2 separate regions of the Homo sapiens genome follow, and region 2 is linked to region 1. A link means that fine-mapping ties the variant in region 1 to the expression of a gene that starts in the linked region. Tissue or cell type: whole blood. Region 1 holds a variant in brackets; the other region holds the start of a gene. All regions are shown on one strand. Distances are from middle to middle.

Region 1 (8,104 bases):
AAGCTTCCAGGTTTGAAAATACATAGATATGAACGAAGTTACCTTTCAGAGATGAGTCAACCACTGGCCCTGCAAGATCACAAGACAGTAGCTTATCACTTTCAATTTATAAGTGGAATGGAGAACAGCCTTTCCAAACATAACCTGTGAGAGGAGTTTCTGTAATCAGAAAACTGACTTGTTGGCTTGTATCCGAGAAGCCTTTCCTATCACCTTAGTATGATAGTTCTCTGGAGAGCTGTGAGGAAATCTTTCTTTTAAAGTGGCGGTCATCTTTGAAACCAAGCATGCATAAGGAAGTAGAGCACAGTACAGGAAAAGAAAGGCCCTCTGCTCTGATCACACACCACCACAACATCCTGACAGATGACCTGGCCATGCACAGCTGCCTCTCCAGGAAAATCTTCCACTCTCATCAGGGAACACTGGACTGGATAACTCAGGTATTCCTAGGTGAAGTAAGTCAGACAATATGGAAATGAAGAAATAAAAAGAGGGCTTTCAGGGCACACAGCTCAGTTTGCCAAATTCAACATGGCTACAACTGATCCCCAAATCCTGAGTAAACACCCTTGCTATTTAATAAGCACAAGCAAAAAAAAAAAAAAAAAAAAAAAATGGAATGCCTTATATGTGTCATTCCCACCCCTGCCCCAGGACATCCCCCCACCCCATCCCACACTCCCCAAAGATACCACCAGCAGGAGCTGGGCAATATGCCCAACTTTCACTTGGGAAATCCTGACAAATCAATCCGGCTCAGTAAAGCTATAAATGGATTTGGCTGGTCTCAACACAGCCCCAATGAATACAGTAGTAAAACATTACTAATAATCACAACAAAATGACAAAATCTATCATCACTCTGACATGATTCAGATCACAGAGATTAACACAGAAACCAACACACAATGGTGAGGGCCAGGGTTCTTCAATGTAGTGTGCTACTGAGCACGGGATCATCAACAAGAAAAATTATTGCCTAAGAATCTGTTGGGACACACTGGGGAGAAAATACTCTGGTCGTTCTCTGAACAACAAAAGACAAAAAACAATTTTAAAAGGCAGAGCCACAAATTAAATGGGAAGACTGCTTGTAACCAAACCCTTCTGAAGACCAGAGAGTAAAGACTTAAGAGTTCACGTTTGTAGGAAGGGGAAGGGAAGGAAGGAGGGAGGGAGAACATCTGTGGGAAAGAGATCATTTCCACTGTTGAGGGCAGAGATGATGAGGCTGGTCAGTGGAATACGTAGCTGGTCAAGACAGGGAGGAGTGTCTGTGTTAAGAGATGGACCACATCCAGCTTTTCCCTGCTGTCACAAGATTAGAAAATTCCAGCAAAGAAGTCAGCTGAAGGCCTAGTCAGAGGGAAACAGAAGAGGAGCTATTCACAGGATGAGGCTGGAGACTCTTGATTCAATGAGTCTGTTTGTACTTGGTGCCTGATGGTTGATATCCAAGGGAGAAGTTTCTAAAGCCAATATTTCTTAAAGACAAATGTTAAACAGGCAGAAAGGAAATAATAACTATATTGGTGAATTCTTCAGTCATCTCCTTTGAGGTAAAATATATCTGGATACATGGACCTAACATAGGTGGTGGTGACCACTGAACTGGCTGCCACCATAAATCTACCAAGAACTAGAGAACTGGATGTGTACACCTCTGCCTTAATGATTTTCCTCGTCTCTGCCCCAGGTTCCTTCTTCCTGTGATGGGCCATGGGAATGTGAATATGGGGGTGGGGTGGGAAGACTGCCCTTGTGAGTGACAGGGGTGGGGACTGTCCAGAGTCATAAGTGAGTGGAAGGCAACTACATTTATTAACCACTTAAAGGATTGTGATTTTGATTGTGAAGAAAATTGCTCTAAGGGCACTCCAACATTACAGACTTTGTTGAAACAAATCAAAACATTTGGAACTGAATAGCACTGAAGGGCTCAGATAAGAATGCAGGGTGTTGCCCTCCCCAGCCTTCATCCACTGTTAGGGTTATCAACAGATGGGCAGAGATCTCATCAAGATGACCCATTTTAAAAGGTCCCTGTGTCAGTGCTTTTAAAGTTTGGAAAGTTTACCCATCTGACCATAGTAATTCAATTAAGGTGTCTTTAAAGAAATAACAAATTATATGAATACCTGTTGGCAAGTTCCCCCACACCCCACTTCAAAAGACCTTTGAAAGTCCTCCTCGACAGGAAGGAACAGCCCCTGCGGGAGTCCCCTGGGGCCTGAAGGAGAGAGTGAAGTACAACGGGAGGGGCGGAACAACCAAGAAGCATACAGTGTGAGTTTTTAGAGCCTGGCTGCTTTCCCTTCAGTAATACGGAAGTTTAGGGTTTCTATTTTAATTCCACCTCTAAAACCTGAAAAAGCCTAAGAGAGAAATATACTACCTAAAGACACTAGAAATAAATATAACAGTAGCAGCGCCACACACCATTACAAGAACCAAGGTGGCCTGGACAAAATGGCAGAATTGAACTTGGTGACAAACAGAAAACTAACAGGTTTAAATCTAGGCCCAAAGGAAGTAAATTCTCACTCTTGGTGAAAAAGCAAAAGTGACATGTAAGGCAGTGGGTCTTCAGAGCAGCCAGCGGTCTTCTCCAATGACAAGAACAACTGTGGGTGGAAGATGCCTTCCTCCTGTTCCCACTGAGCTCTCCAGGACATTCTCCTGCAGTGGTAGAAATATTCTTTCAGTTTTACCACATTGCCATATAGGGTCTGGTACTGCCCTTCATGGATGCGAACTTGCCTTTATTCTCTGAAGCTTTTTTTCTCCCTTAAAGGTGTTAAAACAATGAAACCTTTGAGTGCATCCACGGCAATCTTTGTATTTCTTTAGAAACTGCAGCTGTCTTAACAGTTTGAGTCAGTCTGTTCCTTTAAAAAGACCAGCAAGTACAAATGATACTAGCAATCCCATGATAAAGAAGCTATCAATTATAATAATCCCCTTACAATCAATCATGGATGTGGCTTGTCAGAGCGGATTTTTTCTCTGTCTCCTTGTACTTTCTGATTCAATTGAGAATAAGCGTCAAAATTCCACAAAAATGGGACTATGTTACATTTCCTCTAAGCAAAATAAAAGGAAAGGAAGAGAACGTAATCTCCTAATTGAAATAAAAAGATAAACCAAAAAAGAATATGAGTCGGTGGGGGGGGGGCGGTGGGAGGCTCATTCCTGAGAATAACAAATGCTACTCTTGAATTTGTTGGTTCAAGTAATACAGTAAAACAGAAGAGACGGCTCCACTTCACTTCAATGCTTGGAAGCTGAAAAAAGTACATATATTTTTTCCCCCTGAAATCCATGGACAAAAGTGGGACCAGGCCCTGCATATAGCTCTTTAAAGTCACAGACATATATAAGGTGGCACTTTCATGCCCTCTCAAAGACTTTCCTCACACTCACATAAGCAGGATTAACAGATAAGGAAATGATGCAGTCAGCGTGTGCCTTAAGTGGAAGGAAACCAACTACAAACTGGCGGATATTCAGTATCTCCTGAATGAGAAAGGGAAAACTGAGGAAGGTCATTCAGTCTCTCTCTCTCACAGTTTTAAGTTGAATACATTTGGTGGAGGAGGATGGGTGAAGAGGTAAGGAAATGGCACCTTCCTTTTATCTTAGAAATTGTTTTCAGGTAACGGACAAAAAGAAGCCGTGCTTAACATCCAGCCCCACATGCCCCTTTAAACAAGGCTTCATTATACATAGGAGAGATGGAGCGAGGCAGAAAATCCACAGCAGTTGTGCCTCTTTCAGGCGCACCCTGTGCTGCTACATTGAAGGCTCTTTCCTCTTACCCACAGTGACAGTGTGTCATTTAATCGGGATGCCAAGAGATCATTTTCATACAAGGCCAGCAGATGTAATTTTCTTTGATGCATGAATAGTTCATCATTTTGCTACTAGATGACAAGGTGATCACAGGGTGACTTTAGAATGCAAGTTCACTGTTTGGTATTTTGAGTTCTCAAAATGAAAAAAAGATTTATCAAATATAAATATCTTTAAAAAGTAACAAAAGTGCTACATATGTGATCAAGGAAAAAAATTCCATTAGTTACTGCCGCTTAAAGTAGATTAAACTTTACAAATATTACCACATCCATTATCAATATGGCTTCCAATTATTAAATAAATTGCCTGTAGCAATACAGCTTTTCACACCTCTCCAAGGACAGAGTAAAGAGAACAGCAAAGCAGTCCCATCGTGTTCTCATACAGCCACAATGTGAGTAGGAAACGTCCCCTGCTTTTCTCTGCTCCTATCTGGGCAAGTGTCTGCATCTGTGATAAGCAGCACAACCCCACTATGAAGTCCTCTAGTGACCTCTCAGAGTGAGGGGGCTTCCGTTTAATGGATACAAACACTGCAAGTTTTTTCACTCATTTTTGACCTTAGCTCCATCCTTGAAAGACTTTTTTGGTAGCAGGGAAAGGGGACACTGACAGGAGGCAAAGCAACTTCCACGATGACCTCCAAAACTTTTCCAGGCAGGCACTGCTAACTGTGCCGTGGAATGTACAGTGGTTCTGAAAACTGGACTTAGCATCCATTAGACATTCAGCTCATATTTTTTTTTTCCAATGCTCTCAAGCTGGGTTTTTTTTTTTTTTTTTTT[TA/A]ATGACTTTTGGTTTTTGTCTTTGTTTTTAATCATGGTCCCAAAGGCAGAAGGCAGTATTTTATCTACTAAGTCACACAGCTTGTGAGAGGAAAGGATGTCTGTGTCAGGCATGTTAACTTCAAACAAAATCTGAGATCGGCTTTTTCCATTGACATTCTTAGCACAGCACCCAAAGAAGTATAATCTAGCCACAGTGTGGCTATAATGAGGCACGGCTTATTGCAGCTGGAAATCAATTATCCTCACGCTGAGGTGGGGATTCTAGTGTTCCTTTGACTCTGTGGATACTCCCCAAATGGTGTCTGTCATTCCTGTGCCACGACCTCAGCTTGCATCCTATCAGTCTTGGGGAAGGAAAAGGGAGTACAGACTAGTGTTACAAGAATCTAAAGGTACCCAAGATTTTACACGTAGTCTAATATTTGAGAACTGAGGGCTATCTAAATACCTGGAAGCACTTTCTTGGAATGCTAAGACGGAGCAGCAAGATTTTCTAGCCTCGGGGGCTGGGAGAGGGAAGTTTGGTTGGTTGGTTGGTTATTATTTACTGGGAGTTAATACTGAGAGAGTATATGCAAAGGCTGAGGGCACCATGCCATCTTCACAGAACAAGACCCTAACAGCTACCTGACATACAAGAAACTGCAAGTTATACTGTAAGAACACATGTTAAGGACCGAGGAAAGTCTGCTAAGGTGCTACGTCTAAACTAAGTTAACTTGTCATGTTTAACCTCCCTGATCAGTCATCATCCAGGGCCTCTGTCTTGATTTCGTTGGCTCCTTGTCGGGCCAATGCCAAGATAGTGTGGTTGACTGCTGCCATTTCCACAGCTAATGAGATGGGGTCTTGGTGGTCACTATGGCTCGTACTGTCATCCTAGATGTGCAGAAATAAGAAATGTTATTAGTGGATTGGAAGAATTCTTTAGTCACAGAGAGACATGCTGGGGCAAGGGGAGGCAGAACATTCGTGGGAGGAAACTGGGGGAGGGGCTCATGATAAAATAGAGGTAAATTGTATTTAAGTAGACACTGAATGGATATAGGTCCAAAGATTTTCAGTTGATAATCTTATGATTCAACAAGTAAAAAGCACAAAAAATGTTTTTCATCACTGAGAATTCTATTCATTCTATTAATAAGATTGCTGGTGATGATGATCAAACCTGCAGTGATTGATATAAAACCAACAATTTGGATCTTTCTGTTTGTAACAAATATAGCACTAATCACTGAAGGCCATACTAGTGAGCTATTAAATTCCAGATTGCTGCTCTTACAAATAGATTATTAGAATTCATGGTCCCTCTCTGAACTGAGAAAACTAGACAGAACTTACAATTACATCTTACAGATAAAAAATGCATTTTTGTAAAAAAAGAAAAAAAGAATTCTCCATTACAACAGGACACATGTCACTGCCAGAAACGGCTACGGGAGAAAGGGGAGGAAGGTGTCGAGCTCTCCTGCTGCAGGCAGCTGTGCAAGGGGAGCGGCAGGCGTCTTACCTAGAACTAGTGTGAAGCTGTCCTCCCCGCGCAGCTCAATGTGTTAAACAATAAAGCTGTGAAGGAAGCTGGCATTGCAGGATGTACGTCAGGCACTGAAGATGGTGTTACAAATAAGGGGTATGTTTCTCACCTGTCATCTTCAGGGGAACTCCGTATCAAAGAGCTTTGGAAAGGGTAAGTCCCTTAAGGAAAAAAACAAACAAAACATGGAATGTGCTGCCCTTAGGGCATCTGTAAAAAAAGATGGAAATGATCCATCTATGTGGGTAGACTGAAAAGAGGAATGTTTCCGAACAGAAAGACTTACAGAATATTCTCTTGGGGCTATTAACTAGAGTCCTAAATGGGAAAAAATGGTAGTTCTTCAGAAGTGTGGACATCATTGTTTCCTTCTGATGTTCACAGATTAGTTTTTAGAATTTACAAAGGGATCAGCACACACTTGCATGCATTCTAGGTGTGTGGTAAACAGAGGCTATTAAAGAACACATTGGACTATATGAGCTGGCTGAGGAGCAAGAAAAAAGCACAGACCCCAGAAAAATGAGCAGAAGTTTTCTTGCTGTGGTCTAGGGGAAGGTACCATGCGTTCTCTGCATATTCCAAATGGAAATTTAAATCCTATCAAAATTTTAATGAAATCTGTCAACATCTATGTGGGGGTCGAGGAGGGACTCCCACAGTCTTAGTTACTGAATTACTCCACGCAGTGGCTACAATTAAATACATTTTCCCCAAAAGCAATGCAGAATAAATCAGGGCGAGGTGAAGAGTCATGCAGGTATTGCACTTATGAGAGGATGCATGTGTCAGTGTGCCAGAGACTCTGGAAGAACCACTCCTTTGGGCAGGAGGGTTCCCACTGCAGTGGGGCCAGAGTGAGTGGGGCCTTCCATCGTGCCCTGCGTCGGTACGTGTTTAGGCATGGGGTCCAGCTGCCCCTAGTATTTCTCAAACACTGAGTGTGTGTCGTGAATGGTGTAACTTGCTTGTTTGGATCAGATCCTCCTCTCTTCTTCTACCTTCTCTGCTTCTCTGCCTCCCTCTGAACTTCTTCCCTCCTCCTCCTCCCCATTGCGTACTTGCCAAGTATCCTGTTGTATGACAATAAATCCATGTGGGTGAATAACGATCTCTCACAAATTCAACAGGACAACTGAATCTTACCACATTCCTTTCAAATTACATGAAATCTAACTAGACACAGGAGCAGAGTGGAGGGACAGTGACTGTTTCCCCTCCCCCACCCCATCAGCCACACCCAAGGAACTAAGCTGTCCCACTATACCCCCTGCTCAGGCACCAAGAACCTCGCCCAGCTGCGCAGGGGCTCACCTGCTCAGAGTAGTCATTCCCGTCGACATCATCACTGTTTGAGTGGCCTCCTGGACTCTGCACATCTATCCCATGACTCTCCAGGATTGCTGCTTCTTCGAAAAAAGCAAATAGATCCCTAAATTATCTGTTACCTTATCACAATGGCTGAAACACTGAATGAATTTTTGTGCTAAGGAAATTAATTAGAATGTAATTAAACAAGAACCTGTATTTCTCTACATTTGTTTCTTTTAGACTGTAAGATGGATGAAATTCAACTGCATGTAGGTCAGGGGAGGCACACATTTGCCATTCTGGGGTCTCTGCTGCTGTGCATGTTAGGTGCTTCATAAATACTTGCTAACTAACTAAACAGTCTTCCTATCTTGGGGTTCTATAGAGCATATGAGAACTGTACTGATGAATAAAAAGTGTATTTACAAAGGAAGGAAATGAAATGCATTCTATGCCCATACCACGCTCAATGCGCCCGATCTCGTCTGATCTTGGAAGCTAAGCAGGGTCAGGCCTGGTTAGTACTTGGATGGAAGAAATGAAATGCAATTTTAGAAGCTAAAAACCAACATCCCACCTGACTCACCAACTTAAATTTCTTATTCTTATTTAT
Region 2 (8,104 bases), 160 kb after region 1:
AAATACACAAATTAAGCCTAAATATTCCCAATGTATTCAATATCTATGAAACAAGCAATAGAATTCCAATCAACACTTGCCACAAAAATTGCCATAAGCTGGTTGCTATTTTTTAAATGATGTAACAATGACAGATTTGTTGCCACATATTTTGTAACTTAGGAACACTGAGCTATTAAGTTTCTATTAGCGATGTTTTAACTGAGGATTTGGGCTAGAAGACTGAAATCTGTTTGTACAGCAGTGAAAACGAAGCCTCACTAAAGGCATTCAACTTCCAGCTAAAGGCTCCTTTCCTTGATGCGTATTTGTGACCATACATAGTGTTCACTAAATGCAGTAAACTAAACTAGCAACAGATTAGTTAAAAGCAGCTTAGATTTTCAACTTCCCATAATACAGGCAACATCTTTAGAAGCAATCACATTAAAATAAATGTGTCTTTCACAGTTACGGGATGAAATTGTAAGCTGGACAAGCACCCATGCCCTGGTTTTCTACTTTATTTGTAAACCATATGACTCTCACATGCTGAGAATGTTTTATGCTTTAACCTGCAGTAAAGGCTTTACATCATTTTAATGCCCAGTACTTAAAATGCAACAGAATCACCCCCAACAAATGCTGGGAATATATTTGGTTTACATGTAATGATTTTGATCCCACTAGTAGCCAGAAAAAGTTTAATGAATGCTTTTTCAAGTAAATAACTTTGCACTTCTATAGACAAAACAAAAAGAAATTTTGAGGTAAGGGTAGATGGAAGAGAAAACACTCGTGTTTTTCCAATTTAAAATATTAACAAACATGTTGGTTTTTTACTTCTAAAATAATTATTAAACATTTTTTAAAAAACTCCATGACTATTATAATATGCTTCAGAAAAATAAAACAAAACACTCCGTTAAGTAGTTACGTAGGATTTTTCTCTGGTTTTTGCAAAGTAGTGTTTCAAGTTAAGATACAAGCTTAAAACAAATGATTCTGAAAATCCTGGTCTATCACAAACTAATGGCTTAGTTTTGAATCAACATATTGTATATTCTACATCTGAGATTTAGAAATCACATTTTTTTTTCTATTCAGGTCAATTGAAATATACATGCTACCTCACTCTTTCAGTCCCCCTTATCTGTGTGAATGACCAACAGCAAAAATTTTAAATCAATGGTTAGAGGACATATCATAAAATTACACACTCTATCAATGTGGTTTTCAGTTATCATAGAATCTAAAGGTCCCTTACTGATGATAGGTGGCAGATTCAAGAATTGATAAGTTTGGGGAATATATTCAATTCTCAACAGTCGAAATAGAAATTATGCCAATTTCTTTACTTTAAAAATCCGTTACACTAAAAAAATTGTCACATAAGGATTATTGAAGAACTTAATAAGGAAGTACAAAATATGACCTTAAATTCTCCTAGTGTGTTATTAAATATTAAAAACTGTGAGAAATAAGAGATGTTGCAATCCTTTCCTTTTTAACTCTAATTGAAATTTGAAAAAAAATTTAGAATTCAAATTTCCCAACTTTGACTTAGAAACATAATTCAGCTAGATCAAGCAACTTAATTGCACAATTTTAAAATAAGTTTAATGCAAAGCACTGCAATCCTGATGTGATAATTACCTGCAGCATAAATGCAAAATAATAAATGCATTTAACGATGCATTTTATGGTAAAACCACAAAAAGCACAACCATATTAGCACAAACTAAATAAAAAGACACAGGCGGTATTATGTCCAACAGAAAGAGAAATGTTGTACGAAGCCAAGAAAGAAAGGAAGGACTTAAGGAAGGAAGGAAGGAGGGAGGATAGGAAGGAAGGAAGAGGGAAGCCAGAGGTTTCTGTACCTGCAGGATACCAGAGAAATGAGCTAGTCACATCACTCTACCTTATATGATACATGGGTGATTTTTTTTAAGCTTCAGCGTAAATAAAAACAGTAATCACTTTATACCATTCAACTTTACATAGTGTTATCTTTAATGCCAACTGCATTCTTCCCTTTACTCACCCAATGCTTCTTCACTGTTCCATTCCACCAGCTTTCAGGCAAATGCAAGACAGAACAGGGTGGAGTAGAAGAAAAATACAAGCAGCGCCTTTCGGCGCACCCCCTCTCCCGCAAATAATTTCCAACAGTTCCTCCTGCTACGAAAATAAGTCGCCCTATCTCCAGATACATAACAGACATTCCGTCTCCTTAGTAGACACACACAGACGCGTACACAATCCAGCACTCCCGACCCCCACCCCAGGCCCCCCGAATCTTCAGCAATTATTCATCTAATTCACACGAAGACAAGATACCTCTACCTACTGTTTCGGGGTGAAGGTGGGTGGAGGACGCCTTTCAAAGTAGCCCCAATAGTGTAACCAAAACACGGTTCCGGAATAAAATATTAAGAAACACTTTTCCTTTCCCACCTATCTACCGACTTGAGGATGCAAAAAATCCATCTCCACATCACACCATCTCTACAGTTCTCGTGGCTGGAGTTTGGGGTGGAGATTCGTCCAGGGGAGGGGGCGGAGGCGAGTGGCAGAGTGTGAGCGGGCGACGGGACACAAGCGAGTTGTTGAGCCCGGCCGCCTCGCACCACGTCGCCAGCCCAAACGCCCAGCACCAGGACCTCACGCCCGCCCCTCAGCCCAGGCCCAGAGCGAGCGAGGACTCGCGCTGTCTAACTTCCCATCTACAGACACCGCTCCAAGACGAGCAGAGCACACAAGTACACGTCACACAGTTTAAACACACTTACACACCCCAAACAAACCAACACACCTGCAAATCACCTCACAGTTTCCAGAACTCCACACCGGAGACCCCACCTCCAGGATTCAAACCTTCCGCTCATCGTAGAGGAAACCAGAAGAGTTGGGGGGCAGTCGACGCCTTTCCAGGACCGGACCCCACGAACTGCCCCACCCCACAGCCCGCGTCTGGGTCACCCACTCGGAAGCCCCCTGCTTCCTCCCTCCTCTCAATCCGGCCGCTTACGAGACCCATCCCCAGCGTCCGCTCACTTCCTCCCCAAAACCCCTCCAAAAAAATTGTTTTAAGTGAAGAGAAAGAAGTGAGGAAAGAGACTTGAGGTAGTCCGGCTTCAAAACCGCTCGACTCACCTCAGAATCCTCGCTGAGTTCTCTCCGCCCGGCACAGCCCCCTCCCCAACGTCCCAGTACGAAGGGCTGAGATAGGGAGGAGGGAAGGCGGGAGGGGGAGGGGTGTCTTCCGCGTGGGGCGCCCGTCGGGAGGGGACTGGGGAGGGGTTGAGGCCGGCGCAGGAAGAGGAGAAGGGGGAGGGGAGGCCCCTATCTCCCAGTCTCCCCCTGAAAAACCTCCCTTGTCTCAATCACATCAGACTGACTGTCTTTGTCTGGCTGACAACCGCCATATTGATATCAACAGCCCCTCTCCCACCTGCTGCCGCCGGGCGTCCCTGGGAGTTGTAGTTCCTGCCTCCCCTGAGAAAAATTGCGGAGCCCGGCGCCTAGAGGGCCAAGGGAACTACAACTTCCGGCAAGCCCCGTGCCCATCCGCCTTCCCTTTGGGAGGAGGGAAAGGGGAGTCGGAGCCGTCGGGACTACACATCCCAGAACACCATGGGCCCCAGGCCCGTAAGGAAGACATGATATCATGCTGGGGTGGAGAGGGAGGATGCATTGGCGGCTGGGATGAATTTGAGCTGACGGAAGGAGGCGTTCGGAGAGGAAAGGGAGGAAAAGGAAAGGCGACCACAGTTCCCATGATGCCTGGAGGGGAGACTACATTTCCCATTATTCCCCTGGAAGGGACGTGAGGATGAAAGACTGCAAGTCCCGCGATGCTCTCGGCTGGCAGGTGGCGGAGATTGCACCGGAAGACGCTTCCTGGGTTTGAGGAGTTCAGTGACTGCTATTGAACCACCAAAAGTCCATTATGAAACTGGTGAGTCTTCGCTCCTAGGTCAGAGGGCAAAGGTGATGCTATAACCTTTTGGACCTCTTTTTTTCCTACGTTGGGCAGGGAATCGTCGCACGGGAGGGGTAGCAATTATTGAGCTGGAAAGTGGAGTGGGCTAAGGAAAGCTGCTTTTTGTTGTTGAGAAGGTTTGAATTCCCTCTCCCCCACCCCATCCCTCCCAGGAGGTCTTTTTTCACTCGTTAGTGGGTCTTTTTGTTCAGACAAGAGGTTGACTGTCACAGTCCTTCGCCCATGAACTCTGTGGGCTCTGTTAACCAGGTTTGGACGTCCTGGTTCCCACGTGAGGGTTATAATAGGCTGTTAACAATCCGTTTCCATTCGATTGGCGCTTGAGTATCCTGTCTCCCTACTGTTGTTGAGACTGGCTAGATTTAAGCAGACAGTAAAAAACATCCAGCAGAACGTAATCACTTATTAAATATCCTGTTATATAGACTCCTCACTGCCCTTGGAATTCAGGACGAGGTCAGAGTGTGGAGAAGTTGAGTCTTAAACCCTGCATGGGATTTAGATGGGCAGAGAAGTGTTATATGGTATTCCATTCTAAGACTGTAGGGACTTCATGAGCCAAGGCTGAATGAAGCGTGCTCGGTATACCTGAAGTCTTAACATCACACAGCTCAAGCACCTGGTTCATGGAGGCTCCTCAGACCTTTGATTTGAGCCATTTGACTCATTGTGCACACAAGTCTAACTAGTTTATTCCAACTCGATTCAATTAGTTAATAACATAGTGTAGAAAGGCAGGTGTGAAACACTGTTTCTCAACCTTTTAAAACCCATATTTGTGCAGCCAAGTTATTGTCAAGCTTTACTTGAGGCAGGAGAATCGCTTGAACCCGGGAGGCAGAGGTTGCAGTAAGCCAAGATCGCGCCACTGCACTCCAGCCTTGCAACAGCGCGAGACTCTGTCTCAAAAAAAAAAAAAGTTTATTTTTTACCATTTATATAATTATCTGAACATGCTTTGCCAAACCACACAACACACCTACCCTCATCTTGATAATCATTGTGCTACAGGCATATATTCTGCAAAGCCAGCTGTTTTCTGCGAAGTCAGAGAAAGTATTAAAAGTGGATTCAATTCCGAAATTGTCCCCGTATAAATCTGTTTATATAAGGGGAAGGATGCGGGTCACTAAACCTTGAGAATAGCAACTTACCCCTGGGTCAGTGTGTTACACATTTAATAATGCAGAATTAAAAGTCATAGCCGTTGCCCTACAGAAGCATGCAACCTAAGAAGAAGATAGAAAAGTAAACCAAAGTTATTATTTATTTATTTAGAGACAGGGTCTGGCTTTGTGGGGCCCAGACTGAAGTGCAGTGGCGCGTTCTCAGCTCGCTGCTACCTCCACCTTTCGGACTCAAGCGATCCTCTCGCCGCGTCAGTCTCCCCATATAGCTGGGAATACAGGCGCGCACCACTGCACCCTGCTTATTTTTTTTGTAGAAATGGGGTTTAACCATGTTGCCCAGGCTGGTCTCAAACTCCTGGGTTCAAGGTATCTGCCCACCTCAACCTTCCAAAGTGCTGGAATTACAGGCATGAGCCACCATGCCTGGTCCGAAATTATAATTCACTGTGTTCATGGTGAAATAGAGGCGTGTTCAGGGTTTTGGGAATTCAGAGAACAGAGGATTGGGGAGGTCAGGGGACAGCTTCCTGGAAACGTGACTCTTGAACTGATAAGGATAAGTAAGCCAGGGCCTTCCATGAAAGAGGTCAGCTTATAGGAGCATAAGAGCTTGGTACCTTATTGGCTAAAGCATGGACCCTGTGTTCTCAATAAAGAGCAAATTATATTTAATGTGTTCAGTTTAAGAAGGCAGGGAAGTGTGAAATAGTTTTTCCCATAACAACTCATTAGTGAGGGTATCAAAAAGCCAGGGTTTACTTTACATATATTTTAGTTTGCTCATAAAATCCTCCTGCTTAATTTATTTAGAAATATGAAACCGGGGATTGTAAAAAAGTGGAAAATTATTTTTTCCATTAAGAACCAAAGATGTCTCAGAGGAAAAGGAAGTATTCTATTGATACTCATACTCCCTCTTTACTTTGCAACTATGTATTACATACTAAAATTTATTTGGTAGTTGATAGATAAATGTAATTGAGAATTCCCATCAACATACCAAAAGCATTGTTGCTCAGTAAGTTAGATGGGTGTGTCATGCCTCCCAAATGGTTGGAATAAGTCCTCCCATGGCCTAAAAGTTTTAATTTTGTGTACTGCTTCAGAAATATGTAATAGGCTGTGTTTTAAATTTATAATTATGAAACAAAAACACATTTTGTTTAGCATTTTCTCATTTTTGAGATTCACTTTCCAGAGTACCCTTCCCACACACAATCTATGACCACCTCTTATTGATTCTGCTTCCTAAATGCAGCTTTCTTAAATAGGTTCTATTTCTCTCCAGTCCAACTAGAATACTGTCTTTGTAATCGGAATTCAACAAGACCCCTTATCTGGTCTCTCTGCATTCAGTCTTAACCCTCTCAAATTCATTCTTTCCTCTGCATCCGGAAGTTGTTTTAATTGCAGAGTTCCATGAAACCCTCTCAGTATCTTCCTTTGCCCTTAGGATAACCTCCTACACTTAACTTGGTTGAATATGTTCCATTGCCTGCCTCACTCTTTTTTGCCTGGCTAATTTCTTCATATATTTCAGATCTCTGTCTAAATAACACTTCTTCAGGGCCTCGTTGAATTAAGTACCCCTGTTATATATTTGATGGCATACTTCCTATTTGTAGCACTTGTAATTATTGGCGTGTGTCTGTCCTCCCCCATGTAGATTCTGTGTAAATAATTGGTAAATAATTTCTGAAGGTTTATCAAGGTCTATGGATACCCTTGAGAAAAGATTAAAGAGTGAAATTAAAGAGATTACAATAAGCAGTAACCATTGAAGTAAAAAAGGAATGATAGCTACCTTTTATAAAGCAATTATTGTGTGCCAGGCAATGTGCTAAGTATTTGCTATGTAGTTTCCCATTTAATCCTTTGATCCAGGTGACAGTATTCCCATTTTACAGACAAAAAATGTGAGCTTCAGGGAGGTGAAGTAAGTGGCTTAAAGTTAGCATGGATTAAAAATGATAGAGCCAAGATCGAAACCCAGGTTTCCCTGTTATTTAGTGAGGGTAGGAACTCTAGCACCCTGCACCATGCCTAGGTTATCTCTTAAAAAAAAAGAAGGTAGAGTGCATACAGAAAATATATTCAAGGCTATTTTTAAAAATTAGCTTTAAATGCAAGTGTGGTTCAATTAAGATCTTCAGGCCAGGTGCAGTGGTTCATGACTGTAATCCCAGCACTTTGGGAGGCGGAGGCAGGCAGATGGCTTGAGATCAGGAGTTCTAGACCAGCCTGAGCAACATGGCAAAACCTGTCTTTACAAAAGATACAAAAACTAGCTGAGCGTCGTGGCATGTGCCTGTAGTCCCAGCTACTTGAGGGGCTGAGGCAGGAGGATCACTTGCGCCTAGAAGGTTGAGGCTGGAGTGAGCTGTGATGGCACCACTGCATTACAACCTGGGTGACAAAATGAGACCCTATCTCAAAAACAAAAAACAAAAAAAAGTTTTTAAGGTTATTGGTTAAAAAAAAATTTTTTTTAAGTTTGAGGACTTTCTTGATGAGCTAAAGGCCCCCATATCAGAGCATACTAATTTGGTGCTGAAGTTAGTATTTTTTATCTTCCAAATTTAGCTCCTGTGATACCATTTATAATTCTCTAACTTTGCACATCACCCTCTTGGTGGCTTTTCACACACCCACATGAAAACAATGGATGCCATTATAACGTAATACTTGGGTATCTCCTTCTTAGATACCAACTCAGAGGATTTCAGTGGCTTTCCGTATTTATAATATGCAATATTCAGGCAGCTTTATTTAACTGAAGAAAACTCATTGGCATTTTCAGTTAACCAGAATCATTTTAGAAAGCAGAGGAAAATTAGAAATATATCTTTTAAATTAGCACATTTTAGAGCATGTTCTGTTATTTGTATAGATTGAGCCTAACTGAGTACGCTGATGGCCAGTTCAGCTAAGGATAGAAACTGGAATTCACAAAGGTCCTTACCGAAAGAACATGGAACAAAAAATT

What was found. PIP is the estimated chance that this variant, and not a neighbour inherited with it, causes the effect.
Region 2: HMBOX1 starts here. The variant in region 1 is fine-mapped to the expression of HMBOX1 in whole blood (INTERVAL, PIP above 0.99).

Annotation. Positions count from the first base shown.
Region 1 is chr8:29,048,439-29,056,542 of GRCh38, reverse strand. HMBOX1 (homeobox containing 1) reads right to left here. Exons shown (of 10, transcript NM_001135726.3): 9 at 7,495-7,589; 10 at 3,281-5,525. The coding sequence ends at 5,388. It also overlaps the pseudogene RNA5SP260. Among named protein-coding and RNA genes, the nearest start is that of HMBOX1, 160 kb to the right of the region's middle. RefSeq lists an enhancer at 1-72. The variant TA/A (reference allele first, on the strand shown) is at 4,644.
Region 2 is chr8:28,885,713-28,893,816 of GRCh38, reverse strand. It overlaps HMBOX1 (homeobox containing 1), which reads right to left and starts at 3,422. Exons shown (of 10, transcript NM_001135726.3): 1 at 3,139-3,422. It overlaps INTS9 (integrator complex subunit 9), which reads left to right and starts at 3,848. Exons shown (of 17, transcript NM_018250.4): 1 at 3,848-3,943. The coding sequence starts at 3,935. RefSeq lists a silencer at 3,180-3,299 and enhancers at 2,952-3,508, 3,670-3,869, 3,509-4,065.